2 separate regions of the Homo sapiens genome follow, and region 1 is linked to region 2. Evidence: fine-mapped expression QTL. A gene starts in region 2. The other region holds a variant in brackets. All regions are shown on one strand. Distances are from middle to middle.

What was found. PIP is the estimated chance that this variant, and not a neighbour inherited with it, causes the effect.
Region 1: its variant is fine-mapped to the expression of DDX17 in monocytes after interferon gamma (Fairfax 2014, PIP 0.95).

Annotation. Positions count from the first base shown.
Region 1 is chr22:38,477,554-38,493,886 of GRCh38, reverse strand. It overlaps KDELR3 (KDEL endoplasmic reticulum protein retention receptor 3), which reads right to left. Exons shown (of 5, transcript NM_006855.4): 3 at 14,136-14,294; 4 at 12,423-12,675; 5 at 10,440-11,391. The coding sequence ends at 11,351. DDX17 (DEAD-box helicase 17) reads left to right here. Exons shown (of 13, transcript NM_006386.5): 10 at 116-177; 11 at 1,772-1,831; 12 at 5,772-6,008; 13 at 7,447-10,449. The coding sequence ends at 7,952. Among named protein-coding and RNA genes, the nearest start is that of KDELR3, 18 kb to the right of the region's middle. The variant A/T (reference allele first, on the strand shown) is at 8,189.
Region 2 is chr22:38,496,939-38,513,271 of GRCh38, reverse strand. DDX17 (DEAD-box helicase 17) reads left to right here and starts at 6,961. Exons shown (of 13, transcript NM_006386.5): 1 at 6,961-7,321; 2 at 11,992-12,142; 3 at 13,773-13,872; 4 at 14,699-14,832; 5 at 15,122-15,187. The coding sequence starts at 7,035. It also overlaps a transcript of DMC1 not described here. RefSeq lists enhancers at 1-529, 6,126-6,535, 6,113-7,004, 6,936-7,125, 7,005-7,896 and silencers at 7,216-7,485, 7,516-7,685.

The DNA.
Region 1 (16,333 bases), 19 kb after region 2:
CTATTCATGAAGCCTGACAAACCTTACAAAAATTGCATGATAGCATTTGGCTTTAAAGTTCGATTTTCTCCACTTTAAAAGATTTTTAAAATATTGGTCACTTTTCTTCTGATAGTTGGCCAGCTATGTGTATCCATGGAGACAAGAGTCAACCAGAAAGAGATTGGGTACTTAATGGTAAGTTTAAAACTAAGCATTTTCTGTTGATTCCCCACCCCCTGCCCATAAGTGAATGTTCATGCTCTATTTCAGGGATAGGCAAACTTTCTGTAAAGGGCCACATAGTAAGTATGCTTGGCTTTGTAAACCAAATGGTGGTCTCTGTTATAGCCACTCAGCACTGCTGTTTTAGGACAAAAGCTGTAGGCTGTAGATAATATGTAAAGAAGTGGCCTGGACTGGGCACCGTTGGTGGCTCATGCCTATAATCCTAACACTTTGGGAGGCTGAGGCGCGTGGATCACCTAGGCCCAGGAGTTCAAGACCGGTCTGGGCAACATAGTGAAATCCTGTCTCTAAAAGAAAAACAAAACAAAACAAAACTTAGCCAAGCTTGGTGGTGCACGCCTGTAACCCCAGCGACTCCGGAGATTGAGGTGGGAGGATTGCTTGAGTCTAGGAGACAGGTTGGAGTGAGCCAAGATCGTGCCACTCCAGCCTGGGTGACAGGGTGGGACCCTGTCTCAAAGAGATAAACGTGGCTATGTTCAGACAATATTTATTTGCAAAAATAGGCGTTGTGCCAGATTTGGCCCAAAGGCCAGTTTGTCTTACCCCTGTTGTATAGTTGATTGAATTACTGAGGGTACTTTTAGCGTGTGCTCATGGTTCTTTAAGGGCCACGATGCTGGCTCTTTAAACTTTTTCACAACTTTCACCACCCTCCCTTTATTAATAAAGTCTTCAATTTTTTCCTTCTGATTATAAAAATATAACTACCGTTTGGGGAGAATTAAACTGTTACTGAAATATTTAAAGAAAAATGTTTCTTAATGAGTCATATTTTAGCATATTTCCTTTCAGTCCTTTTTTTCAGGACTACTCTTAAGGGAAGCCATTGAGAAATGGAAGAGGCCATATTTTGTTTAAGAAATAAAATGTGGCCGGACACAGTGGCTCACGCCTGTAATCCCAGCACTTTGGGAGGCTGAGGTGGGCGGATCACCTGAGGTTGGGAGTTCGAGACCAGCCTGACCAACATGGAGAAACCCCGTCTCTACTAAAAATACAAAATTAGCCGGGCATGGTGGCATATGCCTGTAATCCCAGCTATTTGGGAGACTGAGGCAGGAGAATCGCTTGAACCCGGGAGGTGGAGGTTGCGGTGAGCTGAGATTGCGCCACTGCACTCCAGCCTCGGCAATAAGAGCGAAACTCCATCTCAAAAAAAAGAAAGAAAAATAAATAATATGCATACCTTTTGGGGGGAAATTCAGTTCTTTTCATTCTACATCTTTTGAACTTGTTTCCTACTGACCCCCAACTTTTGGTTGTGTCTCATTTGGGAAATAACTTTAAGGGGAAAAAAATCTAGCTCATATTAATTATGTAACAAATTGCCACACTCTCTTAACGGTATTTCATTATTAGTAGAGGTAACTATTGTGCTGCTGAATATGAGTGTAATAAAGATTTTCAAAAGAATCACTGTCAGTCATTACAAGAGCTTGGGATTTTCTGGCACCATTATTTGAAATTTTAACATGGTTATGTAAACAGATCAGATAGCAAGGAATGCTTATTTGATGATGATTATTGTTTGTTTTTACAGAGTTCCGTTCTGGAAAGGCACCCATCCTTATTGCTACAGATGTAGCCTCCCGTGGGCTAGGTTTGTATAGATAGGTGTCTCTGTCAATGGTATATGTATCTTTTGGTTTAAAGATTCGTCATTTCAAATTCAGACTTCAAGTTTAGAAAGTTGTATATACATGTGGTTAGATAAATATTTGAAAGAAAAAAATACAAAGCGTGATTCTCCCCATTCCCTGCCCCCCCCACAATTTTTTTTAACTTTGGTTTCCCCCACCCCCCTTTTATTTTCAAAGTCTCTTCCTGCTCCTAACAAACAGGCTTTGGTCTGCAGCAAGGCCTAGGCATGACTATTCAAACAGAGGGAGAGGAGACAGACAGCTGAATGGCTCAGCTTCTCTCTGGTGGTGGTTTCTGGCTGGATAGAATAAGCCTGACGAAACCTAGCTATTGTAAGCTAGTTTCTTCAGTTATTCTTTTCCCTATCCCTGTCTAAGCTAGATATATACAGAGAGGTCCAGTTTTATGAATGCTTATTAGATGGAATTTTATAAGTCTAATGCAGTATCAGAATAGCAAATATGTGTATTGCCCAGTTTAATTTACTGAGGTCAAATTATCATGGGCACTTGGCTATCCCCTCCTACCCATGCACTTATCTGTAGGTGTGTTATCAACTGATGATTTTCTGGAGTTTTTGACCCATTACCATTTAAGATATACAGAGAATTTTATGGTAGTTTAGCCCACTATTCTGAGCTAAACAGGTCTAACTCAGAACTTCTATATTTTAAAAAAAAAGATTATTTGTATTACAAGGAAATCCTTAAATTATTGACAGGTATTTAATTTGCCCAGTAAGGTGAGAAGTACCATATTATTCCCTTATACTATATAATATAAAGAGAACAGGTATTCAAACTGGAATACAAAAGTAATGAAGCCTTTTTATGCATTGCACTCATCATTCCCTCCTTCAGAGGTGGTGACCTGCAGCCATGATGGAAAGTTCTCTCTGCCCCTCTGCCCTCTGAGGTCATGTCTGGATCTGTGCCATTAGAACTTGGGCCTGTTGGGAGAGGAGGCGGAGGCCTGAAAGCAGTTTACATAAAGCTTTCAGTAATGGTTGGTTTTTAAACAGGCTTGCTATGTGCTGGTAGCTTCTTTGTGCATCTTGCCTAGACAATTAAAAATATTTGCTCCATGTCCCCTTGCATTTCTAAACCAAATTAATTGGCTACCATTAGAATAACTTAGACTCTTCATCCCACCCCCACTCATCCAAGTGAGGGGAGAGGGAAGGTACCCGAGTCTGTTTCTTGTTACTCAACATCAGTGCTTGTTTTGGGCCCCTTTGTTTGCTGCCTTGTAAAAAATCAAAAGAGGGAGAAAACCCACCAAAATGGCAGAATTCTGACCAATGTCCTACAAGATCCTGGAAAGTGAAGGCTTCTACCTCATAGACAGGGGTGCAATTTTCAGCTGAGTCACCAGGGCCTTTTTTCACTTCCTGTCAAGCGATGGTCTCTTAAATGTTCCCTTCAGGTAAGTTCTTTGATTCCCATAATTTTATAATAGTCATCCTTAGGCTACCACTTCCCTTTCCACTGGGATATTTTTTATTTTTCCTTTTTTTTGTTTGAACTACACACTGTTAAACTAAAAGTATTGAATTTATTTTGTTTTGTTTTTTAACAGAAGCTTTGATATCAGCTGCAGATCACTCAATACATGGCCGAGACAAATCTACATTGGCCGGAAGCAGCTCTAGATGAGCCTCTTGGCTAGACTTAGTCCCTCCTTATTAGTGATTGGCGATTCAGGCCATGTCATAGGGCCTTTCAGACAAAAGGTTCTTATCCCAGTCAGCTGGCCAAAACATTAACTTTGGATTTCTTACCCTGCTACAGCATCTTCTAGAAAGGCAGCAAGATAATATTGTGGCAGTGCACAGATAACATCAGGGTAGACTTGACTGGAGAAAACCAAATTCTGCGCTTGCTCCTGTGTGCCCCCATCCAGCTGTGCATGCACACACAGGACACCTTTCTAGTATGAAGAACTTGCATCATGTCTGCCCTCTATTGAGCACCCCCTTCTAGAAATACTTCCAAGTATTAGCATGTGAACTGTTGACTCCACCCTGGTGCTTTCTGCTAGGAAAGCACACTTAACGCATCCAGTGTAGTAATTGAACTTGTTCTACTGCCATGGTCATATGCAGTGGGATTGCATAAGGAGCATTATCCTAGCTCTGAAGATACCATGGAGTAGAATTCCCCACCCCCTGTCTTACATCCACCCTGGCCCTGTAAATTCTTTTTTCCTTTGTTGCGTCAACGACCCTAGCCGGAGACTCAAGCTGCCCCCTGTGATAAGTGCCTTCTCGTCTTTCTGGTGTGATTCAGGACTTTAGGGGTCAGTAAAGACCGAGGAGCCTTTATTGTAATAAGAAACAGACATAATGCCCCTTCTTCACAAGCCCTGTAACAACAGCTAATTTTTTTTTTTTAATCTCCCCTTTCTCCCTTGAAATTAATCCAGTCTGGGCAATAGATGCAGTCTGACCCTTTGGATGTAACTTACATTTTTTTTTATTAATTATTTTTTTCTACAATCACCCCAATTATCCTTGGGGGAGGCGTTGGAGGACCTGAAATTTTTACCCGAACCCAGGTTCTCCGGCGCTTGGCAACCAAATGGGGCTACAGAGAAGCATCTAAGCCAGTTCACAGAGCGAGCGTGTGTGGGGACTTCTCACTGCCACGGACCCTTGATGCATGCTCCCCGCGCTCCAGTGGTCCCGTGTCAGAAGGCGGAGTTTTCGAAAGGAGGCCGCCAAAAATAAAAGGCAAAGAGACGGGATCGGCTGCAGCGGTTTCCCAAAGGAGGAGGGAGTGTGCATCGGTCTGGTAACAAACAGAGAATGTTTTTTAATTATTTATATCACAAAAATCTGTGTTTTATCTAGGATATTTTCTGAATATTCTTTGTAAAATGCAGATTTTTTTCCACAAAACAGTAGGATTCTTTGTTATATTCTTAAAATTGTTTGTTTAAGTAGGTAAAAATATACATTCAGCTGAAAGCATTACACTAACATTTACATTTTAAGCCTTAGGAGGTTATTCAGCCCAATTCCCAGCAGTAGAGAGAATACTAAACTTGTGTCTCAAGGTTTCATGGTTTTCCCACGTTCTTTGGCTATTAATTTAATTTCCCAGGTCACGTAGACAATCATTGATAATTGAAACAAGTCCTGAGTTGAAATAACCTTGAGTTGAGCAAAAATATCCTCATTTTGGCAGAAGCTGGGCTTGGTAGTACAGTAAAATTTTAGTGTAATGTGCTCTTGTAATTGAAAGGGGATAGATAATCTGGATGTTTCTGCAAAGGAAAATAGGTGTGTACTTAACAGCTTTGGCTCTACTCAGTTTCTTAAAAAGATAAGAGCAAAAAAAGTTAAATGTTAATCAAAACATTTAAGTTTCCTTTAAATTGTAGTAATAAAATATATGAAGCTCCTTTTTTTACTTTGCTCTGTGACTGGTTTAAAGGTAAGTTTGTTATGTTGTTGGTAGATTTTGCCAGGCTTCTCCCAACAGAGTAGAAGTGATTTGGCCTCATAACTTCACAGTGGTTTACCACTTTGTTCTATGTTCTGGTTTTGTAAAGGATAGTACTGGAATTTGCGTCTGAAGACCAATATTGGTGTAACTCCTGTCAGTATATTGGTAAAATGTAGCAGAGGCAGGAGTTTGGATGTTTGGATGGGATTCCCTTAGGATTCTACAGCCAATAAAGATCCTATTTCCTATGCATGTCCCAGGAATCAGTAATCCTCTTTTACTCTGTTGGGATGAGTCTTTTTTTGTTTCTGTTCAGAGTGGTTACTAACTTCACCTTCTTTCCTCTTGCTGTCATCTGCATTCGTGCTTCCCACCTGTTGTTGGCATGTCCTTTACCTTCTCTTTCCCTGCCACATCAACCTACACACTGACTCATCATTGACGTGGAAGATGTGGAAGATGTCAAGTTTGTGATCAACTATGACTATCCAAACAGCTCAGAGGATTATGTGCACCGTATTGGCCGAACAGCCCGTAGCACCAACAAGGGTACCGCCTATACCTTCTTCACCCCAGGGAACCTAAAACAGGCCAGAGAGCTTATCAAAGTGCTGGAAGAGGCCAATCAGGCTATCAATCCAAAACTGATGCAGCTTGTGGACCACAGAGGAGGCGGCGGAGGCGGGGGTAAGGGTAAGTCCTGGAGTTTTCCAGGTACTGCCAAGGTATCTCTTTACGCCTTCTGTGACTTGCTTTTAGTTGCTGTTTTTAAGAAGGCTGTAAGTATGTTGCTTAATAGCAAAGGACACTGCCTAATGCTTTTTATAACCTTTTTCAACTAAGAAAACGTGAAGTTTGTTGTGATAGTCCTATTAGTTAAGCTAAATTGTGAATTTTTTTTTCTTAGAGACTGGTCTGAGGTTTGGTTTTGTTTGTTTGTTTGTTTTGAGACGGAGTCTTGCTCTGTCGCCCAGGCTGAAGTGCAATGGCGCGATCTCAGCTCATTGCAACCTCTGCCTCCCAGGTTCAAGTGATTCTCCTGCCTCAGCCTCCCAAGTAGCTGGGATTACAGGCACCCGCCAGCACACCCTGCTAATTTTTGTATTTTTAGTAGAGGTGGAGTTTCACCATGTTGGCCTGGCTGGTCTCGAACTCCTGACCTCTGGTGATCCACCTGTCTTGGCCTCCCAAAGTGCTGAGATTACAGGAGTGAGCCACCAAACCTAGCTGAGGCTGGTCTGTGGAGTTTCACCATGTTGGCCTGGCTGGTCTCGAACTCCTGACCTCTGGTGATCCACCTGTCTTGGCCTCCCAAAGTGCTGAGATTACAGGAGTGAGCCACCAAACCTAGCTGAGGCTGGTCTGAGTTTTAATGTGGTTGCTTTGGCGGGGCGGGGGCAGAGACAGTCTCACTCTGTTGCCCAGACTGGAGTGCAGTGGCACGATCTCGGCTCACTTCAACCTCTGCCTCCTGGGTTCAAGTGATTCTCCTGCTTCAGCCTCCCAAGTAGCTGGTACTACAGGTATGTGCCACCATGTCCAGCTAATTTTTGTATTTTTTGTAGAGACAGGGTTTCACCATGTTGGCTGGTCTTGAACTGCTGACCTCAAGTGACCCTCCTGCCTTGATCTCCCAAAGTGCTGGGATTACGAGAGTGAGCCAGTGTGCCCCCGGTCATGGTTGCTTTTTTAATACTTTCAAAAATGCTTAGTAGTATATTAGGTTTCCAGTTTTCCATACGGAGAGGTCAGTCATTTTACACTGTTTAGTGGTGGGTAGAAACTGAGACATAGCAGTTGCATCTACAGTTGCAGAATATCCTAGGATCTGGGCTTCCTGACTCAAGGTTTCATATTGTAATACCGTGTTTCTTGATCATCCTCAAGTAAGGGGCCTAAAAGGGTGAAAAGGTCTAGTGTCCTTTAATTTTTACTGTGCTTTTGAATGTGCCCCATTAAAGAATCAAATTATGAGTATATTTTTACAGTACTAATTGGGAGGCTGGCCAGCATAACTAAATATCAAGGAGACATGTTTAATACTTTTGTACCCAGTAGAATTTTTACATTGTTATGTTTAGGTCCTATATCTGCCATTAAAAATCTTCTTGTATCTTCCCATTAGGTGGTCGTTCTCGTTACCGGACCACTTCTTCAGCCAACAATCCCAATCTGATGTATCAGGATGAGTGTGACCGAAGGCTTCGAGGAGTCAAGGATGGTGGCCGGAGAGACTCTGCAAGCTATCGGGATCGTAGTGAAACCGATAGAGCTGGTTATGCTAATGGCAGTGGCTATGGAAGTCCAAATTCTGCCTTTGGAGCACAAGCAGGCCAATACACCTATGGTCAAGGCACCTATGGGGCAGCTGCTTATGGCACCAGTAGCTATACAGCTCAAGAATATGGTGCTGGCACTTATGGAGCTAGTAGCACCACCTCAACTGGGAGAAGTTCACAGAGCTCTAGCCAGCAGTTTAGTGGGATAGGCCGGTCTGGGCAGCAGCCACAGCCACTGATGTCACAACAGTTTGCACAGCCTCCGGGAGCTACCAATATGATAGGTTACATGGGGCAGACTGCCTACCAATACCCTCCTCCTCCTCCCCCTCCTCCTCCTTCACGTAAATGAAACCACTCAAGTGGTAGTGACTCCAGCAGACTTAATTACATTTTAAGGAACACTGTCTTTCCTTTTTTTTTCCTCTTCGCCTTTTCTTTTTTTTTCCTTTTTTCTTTTTTTTTTTTTAATTTTTCCCCCCAACCATCGTGATTTGTCTTTTCATGCAGATTAGTTAGAATTCACTGCCAGGTTTCTTCTGCCCACCAAAATGATCCAGTCTGGAATAACATTTTGTAAAAAAAAAA[A/T]AAATATATATATATATATATAGCTGACTGGAAGAGATTAATTTCTTCCCCCAACTTCTTGCATGTTGAAGATATTTGAGCTATTTTTCATCTAAAAGAGTAAGGTATTAGGCCCTTTTGTGGGAGCCCCATGTTTTGTTTTTCTGAGTTGGTGGGGAGGGAGGGAGGGGGAGGGCTGAATTGTTTTGCAGAGGAAGATGGCATCTGTGCTTTAAATTTCTCATTACTGGGTTAGAAAACAAAGAGGGATTGCCCTGCACATTTTCTTTTGTGCTTTTAAATGTTTCTTAAGTTGGAACAGGTTTCCTCGGGCCTGTTTTGACTGATTGCTGGAGTGCATTTGATAGTTAAAAATTACTAATTGGTTTTATTTCCCTTCACACTCTGCCTCCCCACTTCTCCCCCCGTTACTGAAAAATAACCATTTTAGTGTCAGGCTAGAAATTGAATTGCTGAGTTTTGTGTATCCTTTAAATTAAAAACCACAAGTGTTTATTGTAGTGGTTAAACTGTAGCATCTCAGCATCTGGGTGGAAGCTGCCTATATTTCTTCCCAGTTTAACTGGGGACCATCTGTGAAATTAATTTTCCATCCAGACAGCTGCTGTGAGCAAATGAACATAAATGCTCGCTGGAAATTTACTAACCAGTTTTTATATTGACCTGCAGTGTAAAAAGCACATTTAATTATAAACAATATATTCAAAATGGGCAAATTTTATTTTCAAATGCAGTGTAGAGCTAGATTAAAAGCAACTCTTTGCCACCTACTCTGCCCTTTTGGCAAAGTTACCTTGAACAAAGAATCTTAAGGGTTTATTAAGAACTCTTTATTTTCTTCATACCCTGTTCTCTGCAGTGCTTTCTAACAGCTTCTGGGTGCAGATTTTCTTCGGCATCCTTTTGCACTCAGCTTATTACAGGTAGGTAGTGCTTAAGAAAAGTCATGGAGGACTAAAGCCTAAGTCCTTTTCACTTTTCCTCCATCTGAAGGTAGGTGAGTTCATCCTCTTCATGGTAATGCTGTTTTACCAAGACTTTATAGCAGATGGACCCAGAAAGAATTTTCTGCTATTGTGTTCACTACAACAGGATAGGGACATCAGACAGCCCCAGAAACCCCTTCCAGATCTGATATGGGACTATTAATTTTTATGCTGTTAATTGGTATTCATTCACAATGCAGTTGAAGGGGGAAGGCTCCACTGCATTCTTTGGCTAAGGCCTGAATGCTTGCTCATCTGTAAGATCTATACTCGAGGTTTTGTTTTCCTTTTAAAATTCTTTAGGGAGAGAGGGATGGTTTCTGAGGGGTTCTGAAAGTATGATTCAATGTGCAACATACAGGTAGGTCTTCAGCATAAGCTGAAATATATGCATGTAAAAACTTTGACATCTTTTTTTTTAATTTTCCACTTTCTTCTTAACTTTACTTCTCTTTTTGTCCCCCCCCCATCTTACAGAAGTTGAGGCCAAGGGAGAATGGTAGGCACAGAAGAAACATGGCAAACTGCTCTGTGCTTTCAAACCAAAGTGTTCCCCCCAACCCCAAATTTGTCTAAGCACTGGCCAGTCTGTTGTGGGCATTGTTTTCTACAACCAAATTCTGGGTTTTTTTCTTCTTTCTTTAAACATAGAGGTACCACCACAAGGGATGCCCTACTCTCTCGCAGCTCTTGAAAGCATCTGTTTGAGGGAAAGGTCTCTGGGCAAGCAAGTGGTTATTTGGATTGCTTGCTTCCCTTTTTCCACCTGGGACATTGTAATCATAAAATAACAGTAAATTCCAAACCTCAAAAACTATTATGGCCTGAGCACAGCTGAAATCTAGCAGAGTTTAACTCTTCTGCCTCCATGTCTGTCACTTATAATTCAGGTTCTGCTGTTGGCTTCAGAACATGAGCAGAAGAATCGTTTTATGCTAGTTATTGCATTCATGGTTGAAACTCAACTTAGGGAAAGGGTTCCAATGTATTAAGCAATGGGCTGCTTCTCCCCAATCCTCCCTAACAATTCGTTGTGTGGACTTCTCATCTAAAAGGTTAGTGGCTTTTGCTTGGGATCAGTGCTCTCTATTGATGTTCTTGCTGGTCTCCAGACACATTCCTGTTGCATTAAGACTTGAAAGACTTGTAGATGTGTGATGTTCAGGCACAGGATGCTGAAAGCTATGTTACTATTCTTAGTTTGTAAATTGTCCTTTTGATACCATCATCTTGTTTTCTTTTTGTAGGTATAAATAAAAACACTGTTGACAATAAGGTGTGAGCTTTTATTGCTTAATTCTCTGAATAATTCAACGTAGACGTCTTAAAACAGTTTTTGTTTCAAGACAAAGATGGGGGATATTGGATTGACTGATTACTTTCGCACCTAAAACTGAAAGGAAAAAACTTAATACAAGAATTGGAATTGAAAACCCTAGCAGGATACCTAGTAGGTAAGGGTTTGGATATATCTGTATCTGCTCATAAGTAAAACAGTGATTGTGCAAATGGTACTCGCCTAAGTACCATTAGGTTATTGGTATTAAGGTACTAAGTACAAGGCAGGTATCAGCCACTGGTTTGAAAAAATTCAAACCAGTAAAAGATGAGTCACAAAACTCCTCCAGCCAAACCTGGTAAATTTGGTTTGCTTCTGGCCTGAAGGCAGTGTGAAAGTGAAATAAGTTTCACACTTAAAACTAGCTGACACCTTTATATCTTGACCACCTAAATTTGGTCATCTACCTGGAAAGTGGAAATTCACAAGAACGTACCCTAATATTTTAACTGGTCTTTAGTTGGGACATTCTAAGAGGAGGGACATTGTTCCAGATTGGGGTTGACTTGCTCATCATGAGTCTTGCCCTCAGGCCTTGGAGAACAATCATTTATGTTTTTTATTTCGTCGGTAAGACACCTTAAGGTTTCTTGTTGCAGTGAGGCACCATCTTTGTGCAGGTGGCCGAGGTTTTTTATGACCTTACAATGGGTCTTTAAGGGCGATCTATTGATGAGAAGGTCTTCTGGGTGGGATGATCAGGTTTTGCTGAAATCCACACTAAACACTTTTCTGGTTTTAACATTTGATCCCAAATTATGGATAAGTTGCCAAAGAGAACATTCAAAATAGTTTCCTTCATGTGCTTGTTAAGGCGTAGACTGTCTCTGAAGGTCCTCAGATTGGCATTGGAAGACTTAACTTCTTTCCCTTAAGGACTGGAAGAAAATGGAGATGAAATAAGAATTTACCATCTGATGAAAGGACTGCTTTATAACTTGATGCATAATCTTGGTATCATCTCTTAATGGCCGGCTCACAGTATATGTTCGATTGTTAAAGCAAAGGGGGAGTCCATCTCCGGTTGACTATGGACCTACTGATCCCCGACTTGGTTACTGGCACCCTTCCCCCCAGCTGTAAACTTAGCGATTGGCCTCAAATTGTCTATTGTACATCTCATACAATCAAATCAGCAGTCCTTCTCAAGTCCTAGAACTTGTGTCCACATGTCTTTCTACCTAGAGCCTTTTTCCTGATCAACTGCAACTGCCCCATAGCTAGTCACTGTACTTGGACTGCTTTCTACCCTACATAGCAGCTAGTGGATTGGGTTTTTTAATGACCCAATACCTGCCCTTGGCAATCAGAATGTAGTGCAAGCCCCTTACCCTGGCCTACGAGGCGCTAGGTCAAGCTTGTCCAACCCGCGGCTCAGGATGGCTTTGTGGCCCAACACGAATTTGTAAACTTTCTTAAAACATATGAAGTGTCTTTTTGTTTGTTTTTGCTCATAAGCTATCAGTGTATTTTATGTGTGGCCCACGACAATTCTTCAGTGTGGGCCAGGGCAGCCAAAAGGTTGGACACCCCTGCCCTATGTGAACTGGTCTTGGTTGACTCATCTCCAGGTTTATAGATTTTGACCCCACTAGGCTTTTTGTCCATCACACCAAGCTGGTGGTTGCCTTGGGGCTTGTAATAAGTTCTGGAATGTTTTTCACTACTAACCAAGTATTCTGTCAAATGTCATCTCACAGCTGTCTTGCATAGTACACATAACCTATTGGCCTGCATGTTTTTATGGCATTTGTTTCTTTATTGAAAATATTTGTCTTCTTGCATTAGAACACAAGCATTGTGGATGGCAGAGACTTGACTGTTCACATCTGTATCTGCTGGAATACTTATTAAATGGATGAGTAACTCCTTAGGCCAGTGTCAGCATTGCTGTCATCCCAGGACCTACCTTTGGTCACATACAAGTAGAAGAAGTCACAGTAGAAGATGGTTTGTACTACTCCAGACACGACTGCAATTTGGTCATAGAAATTCTCAGTCTGGTACCGCCTGATCCAGTTAGCCAGGTAGAGTGCCCGGTACAGACCCAGAAAGAACAGGTAGTGAGTAGTTATGGTCTCAGCCTCTCCAGTCTTGCTGATCATGAAGAGCTGGGGCAGGATAGCCACTGATTCCAGATAGATAGAGAAAGTCCAGAGGATCTGAGCCAAAGAGAAAGCAACCAGAGACTGAGCAAGACCAAGAAGAGGCCCATCTTAAAAGAACATAATTACTAAAACAATAGCTTGCTGGAGAAGGTACAGTAAGGAGGGAAAAAGTTCTCAATAAAAATTATAATATTTTAATCAGTTTAACCTACCATCTCTAGGTAAATATAAGGGTTTTTTTTTCTAATTTTTGAAAGATTATACAGTACACTGCTTTTTTCACAGTGTAGCGTGAGCATTTATATAGAAAACTACTTTTAATTTTTTTTTTTTTAAGATAGGGTCTTGCTGTTGTCACCCAGGCTGGAGTGCAGTGGCATGATCATAGCTTGCTGCAGTCTCAAACTCCTGGGCTCAAGTGATCTTTCCATCTCACCTTCCTTAGTAGCTGGGACTACATACAGGCATGTGCCACTACACCCAGCCAAAAATAACTTTTTTATTTATTTTTTTGAGATGGAGTCTCGCTCTGTCTCCCAGGCTGGAGTGCAGTGGTGCGATCTCGGCTCACTGCAAGCTCCACCTCCTGGGTTCACTCCATTCTCCTGTCTCAGCCTCCCGAGTAGCTGAGACTACAGGCGCCTGCCACCACGCTCGGCTAATTTTTTTTTTTCTATTTTTCAGTAGAGACAGGGTTTCACTGTGTTAGCCAGGATGGTCTCGATCTCCTGACCTCATGAGCCACCGTGCCCGGCCAAAAATAACTTAAATGATAGTTTCATAGTATAAAATCATAATTGAAGCCACAGTTTCTTAAAATCTAGTCATGTTGCCAGGCTCACACCTATAATCCGAGAACTTTGGGAGGCCGAGGTGGGTGGATCACTTGAGGTCAGGAGTTGGAGACCAGCCTGGCCAACATGGTGAAACCCCGTCTCAACTAAAAATACAAAAATTAGCTGAGTGTGGTGGCTCGTGCCTATAATCCCAGTTACTTGGGAAGCTGAGACAGGAGAATCACCTGAACCCAGGAGGCAGAGGTTGCAGTGAGCTGAGATCCTGCCACTGCACTCCAGCCTGGGCAACAGAGTGAGACTCCATCTCAAAAAAATAATAAAAAATTAGTCATGTCCATAAACACCAGCATCAGAATCTCCCATGATGCTTGTTGCCTGCAGATTCATGGGCCACAGTCCAAACTTACTGAGTTGAAATTTCTGGGCCTGGACTGTGCTACAGGGATACAGGGATCTGCTAATCGGTTGAACAGAACGTCTCAACAGCCAGAAGTAGGGCTGTGATGCCTGCTTGGTTTATGGGCATCATGACTATTGAGATGTGCTCATTTCCAACTAAAGCATTGTAAATAGCTTGTCAATTTCTTCTCAACTTATAACTGAAAGATACATGAGTAATGGTCACAGTTGTAAGCAGAAGGCAAGCCCAGGGTCTGGAGGGAAGGATGCAGGGAGCATATTTCCCTTTGAGAACTGGTACTCAGTCCATTCCCTTACCTCCAGCAGAGTGAAACTGTAGTTTTCAAGGAAGGAAAGGCCAATGACTGGGACCAGAAGAAACTCCAGGCGGAATGTGTCATTCTCACTGTCAAAAGTTTTACGGAATTTCCCATATATCATGTACACTGTAACATAGGCACAGAGGAGAAAAACCACCTAAAAGGGGAGAGAGACATGGGAATCGAATCTATGAAGTCATTTCCCGGCCTATTTACTACGCTCCTAGCCTACCAAACCTAAGGGTCAGTGTTCTGCCATAATGTAACATGAAGAGGTTAAATGTGTTTGCAATTTATCTTGGGTCCAGTTGCCTAGAATTTGAAATCAGTGACCCTTTCATTAAATAACTCCATGCTTCTATACTGGGACTGACAGTGCTGCCATGAACAAAGGTGCCCTTGTCGTCCCCTTCATTTGTGGAGCATTAGGTGAAACAGGATTGGTCTATTTCAGGGGATTTACCAGAGGCATTCCAGGGCTCTTGAAACAATTTTAAAACAATTTCCTGGATATGCATCAGTGACTTCTGAGCATTCTTCCACAAGGACTAGCCTTTTTTTTTTTAAATGTTGCCCAGTCTGGCCTCAAACCCTGGGGTCGAGTGATCCTCCTGCTCCAGCCTCCCTAGAAGCTGGGACTACTTATGGCCTGCTAACATCCCTTGAACTAACTGACCATTGCTCCTTCAGAAAAGCTCTCCTAATCACAGTAGCTGTCCTCTGGCATATAATGATTTCATTTTGATATGGCCTCCAACCTTCCAGGCCAGCACTTCTCAAATGAGTGTGCATCAAAACACAGATGCTGCCTGGGTGTGGAGGCTCACACCTGTAATCCCAGCACCTTGGGAGGCCAAGGTGGGCAGATCACCTGAGGTCAAGAGTTTGAGACCAGCCTGGCCAACATGGTGAAACCCTGTTTCTACTAAAAATAAAAAAACTAGCCAGGCATGCATGCGGGCGCCTGTAATCCCAGCTACCTGGGAGGCTGAGGCAGGAGAATCGCTTGAACCCGGGAGGCAGAGGTTGCAGTGAGCCGAGATCATGCCATTGTACTCCAGCCTGGGGGATAAGAGTGAGACTCTGTCTCAAAAAAAAAAAAAAAAAAAAAAAAAAAAAATCACAGATGCTGTCTCTTCCCTTGCCCCAAGAGCTTTTGATTTCATAGGTCTGGATGGGCCTGAAAGTTTGTTCTTCCTTTTTTTTTTTTTTTTTGAGATGGAGTCTCGCTCTGTCGCCCAGGCTGGAGTGCAGTGGTGCAGTCTTGTCTCACTGCAACCTCCGCCTCCTGGATTCAAGTGATTCTCCTGCCTCAGCCTCCTGAGTAGCTGGGATTACAGGCGTGCACCACCATGCCCGGCTAATTTTTATATTTTTAGTTTCACCATGTTGGTCAGGCTTGTCTCGAACTCCTCACCTCAGGTGATCCGCCCGCCTCGGCCTCCCAAAGTGCTGGGATTATAGGCATGAGCCACCGAGCCCAGCCTTAAAAGTTTGTATTTCTAACAAGTTTCCCAAGTGACGCTGATACTGCCGGAGCAGGACCACACTGGCCTAGAGCACTCCTATTTGTACTCCTATTTGGAGTTATTTCCTCGAAGCAGTCTTTTTTTCACTACAATGAGGCACACATTCTGTCGCCATAGCTCCATGTGAACATACTCATTTTAGCCCGTGATCACATGCTCTGTAAATGTCTAGGTACAAGTCCATCTCCCCTCTAAGAGAGGACTCCGTGGCAAGGTCCACCTCCTAATCCCCAGCTCCTAACTCAGTCCCTGGCACAAAACAAATGCTGGAATGAGTGAATGAGGTGGTCACTTTTTCATTTCATAAATGTAGAAACTAGCCTCTTTGAGCTTCCTAGACCTCATTCAGCTATGGCAAGGGCTGAGTCTGCTGTCTCTGCCAGGAATGCCCAAGGCTGACTTGGGCTGAGAAATGAACTAGCAGGTGATGTTTGATACATGTGTGAACTTAAGTAGACGGTGATTTCCAGTCCTCAGATTCACATTCACTAAATCTGAATGAGTTCAACACCTCACAAGTAACAGCAACCTCCACTCTACCAACTAGTAACAACATGCCTGAAATCCCAAAGGGATGTCTCTGATATGGAAGAAAAGGACAACTCACTTTAGTTAAATATTTTCTAGGTGCTGTATGTTATCTCATGTGATCTTCTCAATAGCCCTG
Region 2 (16,333 bases):
GACAGCAGGGGGAGCAGGGGCAGCAGGGCCTAGCAGCAGTGGCAGAGGCCTGACCAGGCTGTTCCTGCTGCTAGACTGGGGTTTCCGGCTCCTAGACTGCTGAGTGGCTCAGACTCCCATCCATGCCCAGGCTGTTTCTGCAGTCTTCTGCTAATTCAATGAACCCTAATGTCCTTTTTTTTTTTTTTGAGACAGACTCTAGCTCTGTCACCCAGCCTGGAGTGCAGTGGTGTGATCTTGGCTCACTGCAACCTCCACCTCCTGGGTTCAAGCGATTCTCCTGTCTCAGCCTCCCGAGTAGCTGGGATTACAGGTGTGCACAACCCCACCCAGCTAATTTTTGTATTTTTAATAGAGATGGGGTTTTGCCATGTTGGCTAGGCTGGTCTTGAACTCCTGACCTCAGGTGATCCACCCGCCTTGGCCTCCCAAAGCACTGGGATTACAGGCATGAGTCACCACGCTCAGCCCCTAATGTCTTTCTAATAAGTTTCCCTTTGCCTTAGTTAGCCAGTTAGATTCTATCACTTGCCATCTAGAACTCCAACCAAGGTAACAACAGAGTGCCTCTCAAGTGCCGCCTTCAGGGACTGGAGAAAGGGAAGCCAGGAGGGGCTTGCTTAACACTCGGGTGGGACAGCTCTCATTATTCATACTCTTCACGTGCTTTCCTACGCCAGGCTTCAATATTTTGAGAGGGAAGTTGTTAAAGGGATAGCTTAGATTTTACTTGACTGAATATAAGGGAAAACCCCCAAAATAAGTGTCCCAAACAAAATACAGGTTTATTTTTCTCTCATAGAAAAGAAATCTAAAGCTAGGCAGTCCAGAGATGCTACTACAGTGGGTCCACTTTGTCATCAGGCCCGCAGGCCTCTATCTTTCTGCTTGACCATCTTAATTTTTGACTTCCGTCTTCAAGGTCAGCTCATTGCCTAAGTTGGCAGCTGGAGCTCTAGTCAGAGAAACCAAGTTGAGAGAAGAAAGATAAAAGGCAGTCTGGGTGCAGTGGCTCACACCTGTAATCCCAGCACTTAGGGAGGTTGAGGCAGGTGGATCACTTTAGGACAGGAGTTCGAGACCAGCCTGGCCAACCTGGTGAAATCTCATCTCTACTAAAAATACAAAAATTATCCGGGTGTGGTGGCATGCGCCTGTACTCCCAGTTACTCAGGAGGTTGAGGCGGGTGAATCTCTTGAACCCGGGAGGCAGAGGTTGCAGTGAGCCAAGATTGTGCCACTGCACTCCAGCCTGGGTGACAGAGTGAGACCCTGTCTCAAAGAAAGAAAGAAAGATAAAAGGCAGAAGGGCAAAAAGAAAAAAAAAGAAGGAAAAGCTCTGTCTAGCTGACTCAGCTCCTGTAAAGCAGCCCTACCATACAACACTTGTGCTTATATCTCATTGGCCATACCCATGCACAAAAGAGGTAGGAAAATACAGACTTTTGTTCCAGACATCAATATGCCCAGCTAAAATTTGGAGTTCTGTTATTAAGGAGGAAAAGGAGCCAGGCATGGTGATGAGCACCTGTAGACCTAGGTACTCAGCAGCTGAGGCGTGAGGATCGCTTGAGCCTAGGAGTTCAAGATGGCAGTGAGCTGTGATCGTGTCACTGCACTCCAGCCCAGGTGACAGAACAAGACCCTGTCTTCTCTCTCTCGCTCAATTTTTTTTTCCAGAGGTTACAGGGTCTCTCTCTGTCACCCAGGCTGGAGTGCAGTGGGGCAAGCATAGCTCACTGCAGCCTCAAGCACCTGGGCTCAAGTGACGCTCCCACCTCAGCCTTCCACGTATATGGAAAGTATCTGGAACCACACACACACACCACCACACCCAGCTAATTTTTTTATTATTTGTAGAGCTGAGATTTCACTATGTTACCTAGGCTGATCTTGAACTCCTGGGCTCAAGGGATCCTCCCGCCTCGGCCTCCCAAAGTGCTGGGATTACAGGTGTGAGCCACAGCGCCAGCCTCCTGACTCTTAATTGAAAAGGGAGAAAGGGAGAATGGTTGTTGGATAAGCAATTAGCATTCTTTACAACAAAATCTTCTTTTACTTCCTCATTAATGATAAACTTATTGAATGCCTATTGTATACTATGCAAGGTGTTTCAGATTTTCTGTTTGTTTGTTTTACAGATGGGGTCTCAGTCTGTCACCCAGGCTGGAGTGCAGTGGCACAATCATAGCTCAATGCAACCTCAAATGCCTGGGCTCAAGCGACCCTCCCGCCTCAGCCTCCCAAGTAGCTGGGACTATAGGCACATGCCACCATGCCTGACTTGTTTCAGATTTTGTACTTGTATTAGAAGAGCTGGTTGAGGAGTGTATCAGTTAGAATGCTTTCAGCTACAAGTAACACAAAGCTCAAAAAAGTAGATTAAACAATGAGGAAGCATGTCATTTCAAATAAGAAGTCCAGAAGTCAACCAGCTCCACAGTTGGCTAATACAGTGACTCTATAATGTCATCAAGGGCCCAGGTTCTTTCCTTCTCTCCACTTTCCCCACCTTCGGTGTGCTGGTTCTGTTCTCCAAAAGTTCCCTTCATGGTTAAAAAACAACTACAGCAGTTTCCTTTTCATATCCTAAGATGAAAACATGAAGAAAAAGATAAGGGATTTTGCGGGGAGGAAGGAAATAGCTCACTCACGCAGCTACATTCAGCTAGTAGGCTGGCTGAAGGGTCTGGGATGGCCTCACTTGTATATCTGGGGTCTTGGCAGGATATACTTGTAAGTATGAGACTTCTCTCTCCACATTGTCTCTTGTCATTCAGCGCTCTAGAGGAAACTTCTCTTTTTTCTGTCTTTTTAGACACAGAGTCTTGCTCTGTCGCTCAGGTTGGAGTGCAATGGTGCCATCTTGGGTCACTGCAACCTCCGCCTCCTGGGTTCAAGCCATTCTCCTGCCTCAGGCTCTCGAGTAGCTGTGATTACAGGCGCCCACCATCACACCTGGCTAATTTTTTGTATTTTTAGTAGAGACGGGGTTTCACCATGTTGGCCAGGCTGATCTCGAGTTCCTGACCTCAAGTGATCTGCCCACCTCAGCCCCGCAAAGTGCTGAGATTACAGGCGTCAGCCACTGTGCCCAGCCTGTAAATACCATTTTTAAGACTACAACCTCCACCTCCCCAATTCAAGCGATTCTCCTGCCTCAGCCTCCTGAGTAGCTACAGGCATGCGCCATCACGCCCAGCTAATTTTTTTGTATTTTTAGGAGAGACGGGGTTTCATCATGTTAGCCAGACTATTTCTATTAGGCCCGGCCTATTTATATTATTATTACACCGTAATATATAATGAAGGCCAGATGCGGTGGCCATGTAATCCTAGCACTTTGGGAGGCCAAGGTGGGTGGATCACTTGAGGTCAGGAGTTCAAAACCAGCCTGGCTAATAATGGCAAAAGCCAGTCTCTACTAAAAAATATAAAAATTAGCGTCATGTCGCATGCTTGTAATCCCAGCCACTCAGAAGGCTGAGGCAGGAGAATTGCTTGAACCCAGGAGGCAGAAGTTGCAGTGAACCAAGATCGCGCCATTGCACTCCAGCCTGGGCGACAGAGTGAGACTCTGTCTCTAAAAAAAAACAAAAAACAAAAAAAGCTACATAGGCCTCTCACAATTTGCCCACAAAGAAATTCCTTGTGGGCCTCCAAGATCTTTACACTAAAACAGTTCCGTTGAATTTCACCCCGACAATGTACATTGATGGTTTACCATCACAAGCACAGGACAAAGGACAAAACTAAAAAGTCATCCCTCTGCTCGCCTGAAACAAACACATAGCTGACTGCTGCCTCTGCTCTATGATTATTTTATCTTACGTGAAAATGCAGATTATCTGAGCGTGAGCAGAAAGCATCAGTGAAGACTATCAAAGACCCAGAAGAGGACACGGACACATGGAGCGGGGGAACAACACATACTGGGGCCTGTTGGGGGTCGGCGGAGGGAGAGCATCGAGAAGAATAGCTAACGGATGCTGGGCCTAATACCGAGGCAAGGGGTTGATCTGTGCAACAAACCACCATGACACACGTTTTCTTGTGTAACAAACTTGTATATCCTGAACATGTACCCCAGAATTAAAATAAAAGTTGATGACAAAGGCCAGGCAAGGTGGCTCACGCCTGTAATCCCAGCACTTTGGGAGGCCGAAGCAGGCAGATCACCTGAATTCAGGAGTTTCAGACCAGCCTGGCCAACATGGTGAAACCCTGTCTCTATTAAAAATGCAAAAATTAGCCAGGTGTGGTGGCGTATGCCTGTAATCCCAACTACTCAGGAAGCTGAGGCAGGAGAATCGCTTGAAACCAAGAGGCGGAGGTTGCAGTGAGCCAACTGCACTCCAGCCTGGGCGACAGAGCGAGACTCTGTCTCAAAAAACAAAAGCCGTTGAGATGTCAGTTGGCCCAGAAACACAAAGGGACAGTCACAGACTCACTGGACAAGGGTATGGCGTGGTCGAATGGCTAAAAGGTCAGGCACTGTGCCAGGTAGGCACTGGGTCACGGTGGTGAACAAGTAAGTTCCTGCACTCACAGATTTTACGCTCTAGGAGGGAGACAAAAAGTGTTTATGTCAAGCAGTTACTAATTCAAATGAAAGCAAAGAAAAATGGAAAAGAGAGAATGCATGTGTACTTGTGAAGGAGGAGAGTATGCAGGTTATGCAGTGTTGCATTGGGTTCTGGGGAGGCCTCCCTGATTGAGTGACATGTGAGCACAGACCTAAACTGAGGTATCTAGCCTTGCTGACATAGAGTAAAGAGCGAGTGCAAAGGCCCTGAGGCCGAGTGTGGCTAGAGTAGAACAAGGAGGAAAGACAGAAGAGGGCTGCATCCTCAAGGGCTTGTAGGCCACTGTAAGGCCTTTGTCTTTTCTTTCAAGTGGAAACCTCTGGAAAATTTTAAGTAAAGTGACATAATAAAAGGACCCCTATGACTGCAGTGTGAAGAATAAATTCAGAGTGAGCAAGGACAGGAGCAGGCAGATTAAAAAGAGGCGAGCGCAGTCATCCAGGCAAGAGATGATGAGGATTGGGGCAGGTTAACAGTGTAAATAAAAGAACATGACCCAGGCCGGTGCGGTGGCTCACGCCTGTAATCCCAGCACTTTGGCAGGTCGACACGGGTGGATCACGAGGTCAGGAGTTCAAGACCAGCCTGGCCAAGATGGTGAAACCCCAGCTAAACTACAAATATTAGCCAAGTGCGAGGGCAAGCACCTGTGATCCCAGCTACACGGGAGGCTGAGGCAGGAGAATTGCCTGAACCCGGGCGGCAGAGGTTGCAGTGAGCCGAGATTGTGCCACTGCACTCCAGACAAAAAAAAGAAAAAGAATATGACCCAGGCGAGTCTCAATCACTTTAAGAGGTTCACTTGCCAATGTTAAGAACGTACTTGGGGAAAAAGAACACATAACCACAGAAAAATCAGTGGTCCATGTTTTTTTTCTTTTTGAAGCTCCTTTTCTTATGCTATGTTCCCAAAAATTTGGGAAACAAACACTCAGCACCCACACTGAGGGGCCAAATCTCCCCGCTTCTACCCATCTGTTGAATTGAGACGTTAGATGGGCCCGTCTCGAGGGCCCTAACAGCTCAACAGTCGTGTGACGCCATTTGGCCAAGCTTGCGGGGCTTCAAAATGCAGTTTGAGACGACAGGAAGCAGGTAAGGAGAGGGAAGCCAGTCTGGAAGGAATTGAGCGGAGAACGTGGACTAGCCTGGTTAAACACTTGTCCTTAGCCTTCGCCCTTTCTGTGTCTAAAGACCATCGCTCTGAAACCTTGTTCTCCTGAGAGTGCTGGGGTCTTCTCCGGGCCTTCTGAGGAGCGCCGTTCAACGGCAGCAAAGGGCCCACGGAGTCCACTGGGGCTCCAAGCAATTTTTTTTTTGAGACGGATTCTTGCCCCGTCGTCCAGGATGGAGTGCAGTGGCACGTTCTCGGCTCACTGCGACCTCCGACTCCCGGGTTCAAGCGATTCTCCTGCCTCAGCCTCCCAAGTAGCTGGGACTACAGGCACCCGCCACCATGTCCTGCTAATTTTTGTATTTTTCGTAGAGACGGGGTTTTGCCATTTTGGCCAGGCTGGTCTCGAACTCCGGGACTCAGGTGATCCTCCCGCCTCGGCCTCCCAAAGTGTTAGTATTACAAGCGTGAGCCACCATGCCTGGCCTCCAAGCACATTTTGTTTCTGTATTAGCAACAGCTGTGCTCGGCCAGGGACGGTAAAAATATACGGTTCAGAAAATGCACCTCAGTGTGAACCAAATGTAGCTGAGGGCACTTTAACCTGGAAGGGACATCGCCACCTCACAAACTCCGGAAAGAAAGGGACACGGCTCTTCCATCATGGCTGCCGGAGACAGAGCAGCGAAAGGCAACGGAAAGGAAATGGCGCCGGGGCCCGCCGCCATTCTCAGCGGGCCCAGGGCGGTGGGGCGAGAGGGCTGGCGGCGCCATATAGGAAGGCCAGCCACGGAATTTAAGACCCTCCCGGCCTCTGGCGCCAGAGGACTCTGAAACTTGATAACAATATGGAGGACGGTTATTGTCTCTGCAAAGCAACTTCTTCAAGCCGGCCGCGGGGTCTGTACCGAGATCGGAATCAGGCAAAATCCTCTATTCTCTAAACAGAATGCGTTACGCATACTGCGCATCTTAGCAACAGCAGGCCGGCTAACGACGCAAAGAATGTTACGTCGCACCAGAGGCGCTTCCTCCCACCTCATCCCACGTTCTAGTTCGGGTGGCGCGAGAACTCTACGCTCGCTCCGTACTTTGTTTTTCTTGTACAGACCGCAAAATACACCCATCGTCGCAACTGACGTAAAGTGCTTCCAAGAATACCCGTAGTTCCCCGCGGAGCCCTCGGGCTATTCCGAGGCGCTGTTTACGTATCGTCTCCGCCGTACGCAGCGTTAAGTTGGAGCCGACTCAGCGGCGGCCGCCATTTTGTGCAGTCGCTGGGAAGGAAGGAGACGCCTAAACCGCGGCACTGCCCGGTTTGAGCGTAGCCAAACCTGCCCACCGGCTTTGTAGCCCCGATTCTCTGTGTTTTGCTCCCGTCTCCGACGAGAGAGGCGGCGACGGTGGCGTCTGCGACGGGAGACAGCGCGTCGGAGCGAGAGAGCGCTGCGCCTGCCGCCGCCCCAACAGCGGAGGCGCCGCCGCCATCGGTCGTCACCAGACCGGAGCCGCAGGCCCTCCCGAGCCCGGCCATCCGTGCCCCGCTCCCAGATCTCTATCCTTTTGGGACCATGCGCGGAGGAGGCTTTGGGGACCGGGACCGGGATCGTGACCGTGGAGGGTAAGGGTGGGGGAGGAGAGGAGAGGCCTGGCGTGGGGGTGGGGGAGTTGCTTCTTGGGGAGGCCCGGCGGACTGCGAGCCTGGGAGCCTTGCTCTCGACCCGGGAGGCGAGGGGAGGCGACTCGAGGCGAGACAGCGGTTTCGTGCGCGGACCTCGGCCCCGGGGTCACTCGGGACCCGAGGAGGGCGGCCGCTTGGCGACGCTGGGCCTCTCCGTGCGGACGGCCGTCGTGGCGCGGCCCGGCCCCATCCCAGCCCCGCGGGGGATCGGGAGGGGCGGCCTGGCCGCATCAGCCCAGGCCCGGGCTTTGGCGCCTCGCCTGGTTTCCCGGCTCTCGAGCCGGGCCGCTTCGGGCGGGCTGTTCGATGTCTCCAGGCCTCGGCGTTCATCTGAAAAACGCGGATCTTCCTGAGAGAACACTTCAGCCCAGGAAAGCCTTACACGAAATGGCACCCTTGACGTTCTCTCCCCAGAGTTCACTGTTTAAGGCACGGGAGACGAAAAGACCAACTTCTCATTTTTAGAAATAGATTTTAATTCTCTTCAGTTATATTTTAAGTCGGAGGAAATGCATTGGGATGTAAAGCAGTGGAGTTGCTTGCCATCTAAATGACCGTGTTTGGGGGAAGGATGGGTTTTTGGGTCGTTACTTTAGTTTTAATCTTAATATTTCAGCCTTTTTTCTCTAATTGGACTGCAGCGTCAACTATTCTGCCTCGCTAGAAAGTTCTTGGTATTGTGGACCGGGCGTGGTGCCTCAGGCCTGTAATCCCAGCGATTTGGGAGGCCGAGGCGGGCGGATCACCGGAGGTCAGGAGTTCGAGACCAGCCTGATCAACATGGAGAAATCCCGTTTCTACTAAAAATAACAAAATTAGCCTGGCTTGGTGGCGCATGCCTGTAATCCCAGCTACTCGGGAGGCCAAGGCAGGAGAATCGCTTGAACCCGGGGGGAGGAGGTTGCAGTGAGCCGAGATCGCGCCATTGCACTCCAGCCCGTGGCAAGAGCGAAACTCCGTCTCCCCCGACCCCCCCGCTTCCCCAAAGAGTTACGTGACGCCACTTGATATGTGTGTGTGTGACCTTGGTCAAGATCCTACCTTTTGTGAGCCTGTTTCCTCTGAGGAACGTGATAATTGCCTTTACTTTGCTGTGTTGTCAGGAATTAAGAGATAATGGATGTAATAGTCTCACTGTAGTAGGCGCTCTGTTAACGATATTTTCTCCAAACGTTTTTGTCTTTTGTGGTTCAGATCCACAACTGCTGGATTTACTAGTCTCAAGCACTTCAGTTGCCACTTTTTACAAAATTATTTTGATTTATACCTTATTAGGAAGGAAAATATTTTATCTCATTGTTTAGAGGATGAGAGGTGGAATGTTTGCTTCGCGTGTGACAGTATTGCTAAGTTTAGAAGTGAATTTCAGTTCATTGACTTAGAAAAAGAACTTGAGATTATCTAGGAAAGTTGAAAACGACCCAGCAATTCCTCCCTAAGCTTTATACCCTAGACTGTAATGCCTAGAGAAATCCTTGCACAGGTACCCCAGGATCCTTGTACAGAAAAGTTTATATACCAGCATTCGTGCTAACAGGATATTGGAAACAACGCAAATGTCTCCATAAATTGTGGGTATTCGTACAATTGAATCAGCCGTGAAAAAGAGAAAAGAACTTGGATTAATGTGGATAAGTCACAGAAGTGTTGAGTTAAAAAGCACGTTGTGGTAGGGTGACACATTTAATTAAGGATATGTGCAAATATGATAGGAAAGGGAGTGGTTAACAAAATTCAAGGTAGTGGTTATTAGGGTGAAAGTTGTAAGCTTGAAATAGGCACATAGAGGGGCTACAAGTTACTAATAGTGTTCTATTTCTTTACCATTGGTGTTTGGTTTAATATTTCCTTTCACCATATATATGCTTTAATAAGTTATTTGAAAGGAAAAAAGTGAATTACTGATCCATACTTTGAGTATCAGATGACATTTTTTAAAAATTTCAAACGAACTAGCCTTCTTTCATAAGATCTGTGCCCCAACTCTCCCTTTCCCAAGAAATGTTCTTGATTATTTGAATTGCTGTTGTTTCAACTGAGTGTTACACAGTTGAAGTGGTGGTTATTTTGAAAAAGGAATAGGTGAGGTCAGTTCATGTATTTCACATGTGTGATGCAAAAATGATAGGCATTGTACATTTGAAGTAGTATGGTTTTTAATGTTAATATATGACTTCAAAGGTGAATTTTTTTGTAAAGCCAAATTAAACTAATTACTGACCGGATAAAAACATTTGAGCAGCATAGTATACCAGAGAGTACAGTGTGCGTATTTAAAGATGGCATGGATATGCTCAAAAGTAAAAGGCTTTCTTGAATTTTGAGGTCATTAATTATGTCAGCATTAATTATAAACATGGAAGACGGCATATTTTCCAAGAACCACATGTTTCAAATTAAATGTTTAGTGTAGAATAGAATGTCTTGAATAAATAGCCAGGGAAGTAAGGAGAGAGGAAAAAAAAATACATGAATGATAATCATCAGTTTAAAGCCTTAACAGGAATCTTACTTTCAAGTTTTATTTTTTCCTAAGTCACTAAGGTTTGGGTAGCATTGCAATGTGGCAATAACAATGAAGTCTTTTATAATTTGCAAGAGTGATAATCCAAAGACTTTCTACCTCTTGAAAAGTACCTTATTTAGCTGCTTCATTTGCAAGTGTGGCGGGAGCGGCAATTGAGGTGGCCTTTTGGTCTGTTCAGTATTGAGTCTTAAGCTGAGGGGCATATTAAATATGTCGCTGACACGGGTATCCCTATGCTATGTGCTCTTCCTGTTCTGATTCTTAATTTGTCTTCACTGTCTCAGTAGTGGTATAAATGGAATTAGCCAAGTTCTGCCTGTTGAGTGTAGGTATCCAGTGATCCCAATAAAATCTCCTGCCATCAATTTTTGTTACGTATGTATTTAGAGGAATGTCTGGCTGGTTAAGCCAGAGTTCTAATGGCTTTGAATTGCAGGAAATTGAGGCCCTGTAGAATAATACACCTACTTGCCTATCAATGATAAAGTGGAACTTTATATAAGATGAAGTTACAAGTGGGTTAGAGTGGGAAAAGGGAACTAAATTCAGTACAATATTTTACAAGGAGTAAAGAAACTGAGAAAATGCTATACAGTTTGTATGCCAAACAAAGACCTGTACTTTACAAGATCGAAATAGGGAAAATTAAGGCCATCTTAGTGTTAAGATTCTTCTAGGAAAAGTAGCTTCTGATTTCTTAAATATTAGCTTTGGCTAGTGGTCATATTTGTATTCCTCTTGAGCTTGTCTGTTGTGAAAGGTATATAAAAAGCAAGAAGTTGATCTTAAGTAATTAGTTGAGTGTTAAAGCCTTAAATAAGTCTTGTTAGTGTTTTTTTCTCTGTAAATTAATAATACCATTTGGGAACAAGAAGGAGATAGAAGGTAAAAGTAGAGATCAAAGAAGAAGGAAAGGTCATAAATCTATGTTCAGCTTTTTTTTTTTTTTTTTGACGGACCCTCCCTCTGTCTACCAGGCTGGAGTGCTATGGTGCCATTTCAGCTCACTGCAACCTCCGCCTTCCGAGTTCCAGCGGTTCTCCTGCCTCAGCCTCCCAAGTAGCTAGGGATTACAGGCGTGCACCACCACGCCTGGCTACTCTTTTGTGTTTTTAGTAAGAGACAGGGTTTCACTATATTGGCCAGGCTGGTCTCAAACTCCTGACCTCAAGTGATCCACTGGCCTCCGCCTCCCAAAGTGCTGGGATTACAGGACTGAGCCACTGCCCCCGGCAGGCTCAGCTCTTTTATTAGCGTAAGCTAAAAATGAAGACCAGTCTACCAGTCCTTTCCAAGACCCAGTTTTGCTTTGCAGATAAGCAGACAGGTGGAGTGCTTATCACAGTTTAATAGGGGAGCAGGCCCAAGAAGCTATTCTAAGATTGAGGGACTTGCTTGGAGTGTATCTTCCTTCTTGTCCACAATCTTCCCTTTAATTGAAACTTAACTTAATGTCATCCTTTGCCTGCATGTCTGTTACACAAAAATAGAGACTTGTGTCTGTTTTGTTTAGTAACTCCAGCACAGCACCACTTCAAACAGTAGCCGATACATACTTGGTACCTAGTAACTTGGTACCTAATAACTATTTGTTGAATGAAATGATGCTAACTTGTACTGAGTGCTGGCTATGCCAGATACTTTTATAGTACATTACACATTATTAGGTCATTTTCTCAGCAGCCTCTGAAATAAGTGGTATTATTTCTACTTTGCATAGGAAACTAAGGTGTGTGGAAGTTAAATAATTCTCTTCAAATTATACAGTAAGTGGCAGAATAAAAACTCAAACCATGTCTGGATCCAGAATCTGTGATTGTAATCCCTAGGATGTATTTCTCTCAATAAAGGGATTTTTAATTTTTTGCCTATTGTAGCTATATTCATAAACAGTATTTATTGTTGGGTAGTAAGGGAGGTTTTACACATTTCTCCATACCTTTAAATCACAGCAAATAAAATGGTCTTTTTGGAGGTAGGCTGGTAGTATCCCTAGAACTCCATCCTTTTTGAATATTCTTATGGCATGTACGATACGTTGCTTTAAAAATACTGATGAACTAACTAAAAATTCTGTTCCTAGATTTGGAGCAAGAGGTGGTGGTGGCCTTCCCCCGAAGAAATTTGGTAATCCTGGGGAGCGTTTGCGTAAAAAAAAGTGGGATTTGAGTGAGCTCCCCAAGTTTGAGAAAAATTTTTATGTGGAACATCCGGAAGTAGCAAGGCTGACACCAGTAAGTTTACATGTGTGTTTTAATGTACAGATTATTGAACCAAGTAGATATATTGGTTAGAGTTTATTCATACGCTACTGTTGCCGTTTTACATTTTATTCTAGTGTGGTGATATTTTTCTTAAAAAATTTTTTGGTTAATTTTTTTTTTTTTTTCCTTTTTGTAGAGACCGGGTTTCGCCATATTCCCCAGGCTGGTCTTGAACTCCCTAGCTCAAGCAAACTACCTGCCTCAGCTTTTCAAAGTGCTAGGATTACAGGCGTGAGCCACTGCACCCAGCTGATTTTTTTTTTTTTTTTTTTTTTTTTTTTTGAGACGGAGTTTTGCTCTTGTTGCCCAGGCTAGAGTGCAATGGTGTGATCTTGGCTCACTGCAACCTCCGCCTCCTGGGTTCAAGCGATTCTACTGCCTCAGCCTCCCAGGTAGCTGGGATCACAGGCACCCGCCACCATGCCCGGCTAATTTTTTGTATTTTTAGCAGAGATGGAGTTTCACTATGTTGGGCAGGCTGGTCTCAAACTCCGGACCTCGGACCTCAGGTGATCGACCTGCCTCAGCCTCTCAAAGTGCTGGGATTACAGGCGTGAGCCACCACGCCCAGCCTCTTTTTATTTTTGAGACGGAATCTTGCTCTGTCACCCAGGCTGGAGTGCAAGAGTCAGGGTTTCACCATGTTGATCAGACTGGTCTCCGTCTCCTGACCTTGTGATCTGCCCGCCTCAGCCTCCCAAAGTGCTGGGATTATGGGTGTGAGCCACCATGCCCAGCCTTTCTTACATTCTTATCTAAGACCCCTAATACTCATAAAAGGGGACCAGTTTAAATATGCATTTAATTTGTTCTCTTGTTGATAATGCTTACTAATCTGTTTATTATACATGATTGAAATATTGTATATTAGGTCATGTTTTTTCATCTGTTAGTGAAAAAGATAGATTGGCTTTTTTTTTTTTTGAGGTGAAGTCTCACTCTGTCCCCTAGGCTAGAGTGCTGTGGCATGATCTTGGCTCACTGCAACCTCTGCCTCCCAGGTTCAAGCAATTCTCCCACCTCAGCCTCCCGAGTAGCTGGGATTACAGACATGTGCCACCACGCCTGGTTCATTTATTATTTATTTTTTTTTTTTCAGTAGAGACGGAGTTTCACCATGTTGGCCAGGCTGGTCTCAAACTCCTGACCTCAAGTGATCCACCCACCTCAGCCTCCCAAAGTGCTGGGATTACAGGTGGGAGCCACCGTGCCCAGCCAACATTGTCTCTTCTTGTACCTCATTACCATTGTTTTTTGGACTCTACACATGAAATGGTTACTCTTTCAGAAGAAAGTGTAATGGAAAGAGTACTTGGGTCCAAGTTCCACTTTTTTTTCCTTCTCATTCTGACCTTGAGCAAGTTACTTATCTTTTTTCTCCTATAGAAAATGGAACTCTTAATCACCTACATCATTAATTAACTTACAAAGTAAGTAGGAGCCTTGCAGAGTTAAAGTGATACACATGAAAGTACCATGTAAACTATTAAATATTTGCCAACATAGCTGTGGACTGGATAATTGCTCAGCTAGCTTGGAACATAAATTCTGAATGTTTAGAATAACTAGTTTACTAACTTCTTTCATTTTTTTTCAATAGTATGAGGTTGATGAGCTACGCCGAAAGAAGGAGATTACAGTGAGGGGGGGAGATGTTTGTCCTAAACCCGTGTTTGCCTTCCATCATGCTAACTTCCCACGTAAGTGTTCTTCAATCTAGAACCTTAATTTGTTAAATTGGGTTGAATGGGAGACAAGGGTAGTAGGTTAAACTCTTTGAGCCAGGCTTGGGGTTTTGTTGAAAGGACAAGAGATTGTTTTTATGGTCATCAGTTCTGTTCTAGTATTTAGACTGAGGTTTTGTTTTTGTTTTGTTTTTTTGAGGTTTTTGTCTTTTTCTAGGGTTTTGCCCTCTGCCTTTTAGAAAACAGCAGAATGAAATTGCTTTCTAGCTGGATATAATGTGAATTTGCTAAACAATAAATGACTACCATGTTCCCATGTCCTGTTAGATGCTTTAGGGTAATGGTTTTTCAAATTTCTGGGAGAGGTAGACTATTGTAGCAGCTTTTGTTTGTTTGTTTTTGGAAACGGAGTCTCAACGTTGTCACCCAGGCTGAAGTGCAGTGGCGCGATCTCAGCTCACTACCTCCTCTGCCTCCTGGGTTCATGCGATTCTGCTTCACCCTCCCGAGTAGCTGGAATTACAAGGGCCCACCACCACTCTGGCTAATTTTTGTATTTTTAGTAGAGACAGGGTTCACCATGTTGACCAGGCTGGTCTGGAACTCCTGGCCTCCACTGGCCTCAGCCTCCCAAAGTGATGGGATTACAGGCGTGAGCCACCTAGCCTGGCCCTTAGAAGCTAACAGTGAGTTGGTCGGAGATCTAGTAGATAAAGAAAAAGCACTTTGGAGAGATGAAGCTGGGTAAATCTTATCTTCAGTGAGCTTAAAAGTTTTTTTAAAAACTCTTGGTTTGTGTCTTTAAACACAATAAAATACGCAAAATAAAATTCTCTTACAGAATATGTAATGGATGTGTTGATGGATCAGCACTTTACAGAACCAACTCCAATTCAGTGCCAGGGATTTCCGTTGGCTCTTAGTGGCCGGGATATGGTGGGCATTGCTCAGACTGGCTCTGGGAAGACGTTGGCGGTATGTATGAGCAAGAGAAGATCCTTGATATTGTGGTAACTTATTTTGCTATTCTAGTTGTCATACGTTCTCAGTTCTTCGTAGAAGTGCCATTCAGATAGTTAGATACTATTTTAGTTATTAAATATATGGAAGCATTTTATGTTCAAATTTGTATTGCTTCCTGTATATAGCAGTGGTAAGTTCTGTTTTTCACTTTCCTATTTATGCATTAATTCAGTAATTACTAAGTATCTAAGTAAGATTGTACTTCTAAGCGTAAGGTTGTCATTCTTTCCCCCCTCCACAGTATCTCCTGCCTGCAATTGTTCATATTAACCACCAGCCATACTTGGAAAGGGGAGATGGCCCAATCGTAAGTGTGTTTCAGTTTCTTTGTAATTCTAAGAAAAACTACAATTTAGCGACTATTTAGGCTTGGTGCTTTACATTATCCATTTGTACTCTTAACCACACCCTCCATAGGTGGAAATGGTTTCATTCTCATCTTACTTGGAATTAAATGACTTACCCAAGATCACTCAGCAATTGAATAGCTGAGCTTACATTTGAACCAAAGTCTTACTCTTAAAGAAACCATGCATGCTGTATGGGCATTTACTGTGCAGTAAATCAAGTGTTTTCTGGTTTTGGTGTGGTTTTTTTTGTTTTTTTGTTTTGATTTTTTGTGTTTTTTTGAGATGGAGGTTCGCTCCGTGTTGGTCAGGCTGGTCTCAAACTCCTGACCTGAGGTGATCAGCCCACCTTGCCCTCCCAAATTGCTGGGATTACAGGCATGAGCCACTGCGTCCAGCCTTCTTTCTTTTTTTTTTTTTTTTTTGGAGATATATTCTCACTCTTGTTGCCCAGGCTGGAGTGCAGTAGCGAGATCTCAGCTCACTGCAACCTCCGCCTGCCAGGTTCAAGCCATTCTCCTGCCTCAGCCTCCCGAGTAGCTGGGATTAAAGGCGTGCACCACCACTCCCAGCTAATGTTTGTATTTTTAGTAGAGACAGGTTTGCACCATGTTGGCCAGGCTGGTCTGGAACTCCTGACCTCAGGTGATCTGCCTGCCTCGGCCTCCCCAAGGTGCTGGGATTACAGGTGTGAGCCACCGCGCCTGGCATTGAATGTGTACTTTTTTTTTTTTTTTTTTTTTTTTTGAGATGGAGTTTCGCTCTTGGTTGCCCACGCTGGAGTACATTGGCACAATCTCGGCTCATTGCAACCTCCACCTCCTGGCTTCAAGCGATTCTCCTGTCTCGGCTTCCCAAGCAGCTGGGATTACAGGCATGCGCCGCCACACCCAGCTAATTTTTGTATTTTTAGTAGAGACGGGGTTTCACCATGTTGGCCAGACTGGTCTCGAACTCCTGACCTCAGGTGATCTGCCTCGGCCTCCCAAAATAATGGGATTACAGGTGTGAGCCACCACGCCCGGCCTACTTAACTTTTTTAAGAAATAAGCTTGCATTTGTCCTATATATTTATGAACATGTACAATATGTCTCAAGATATTCAC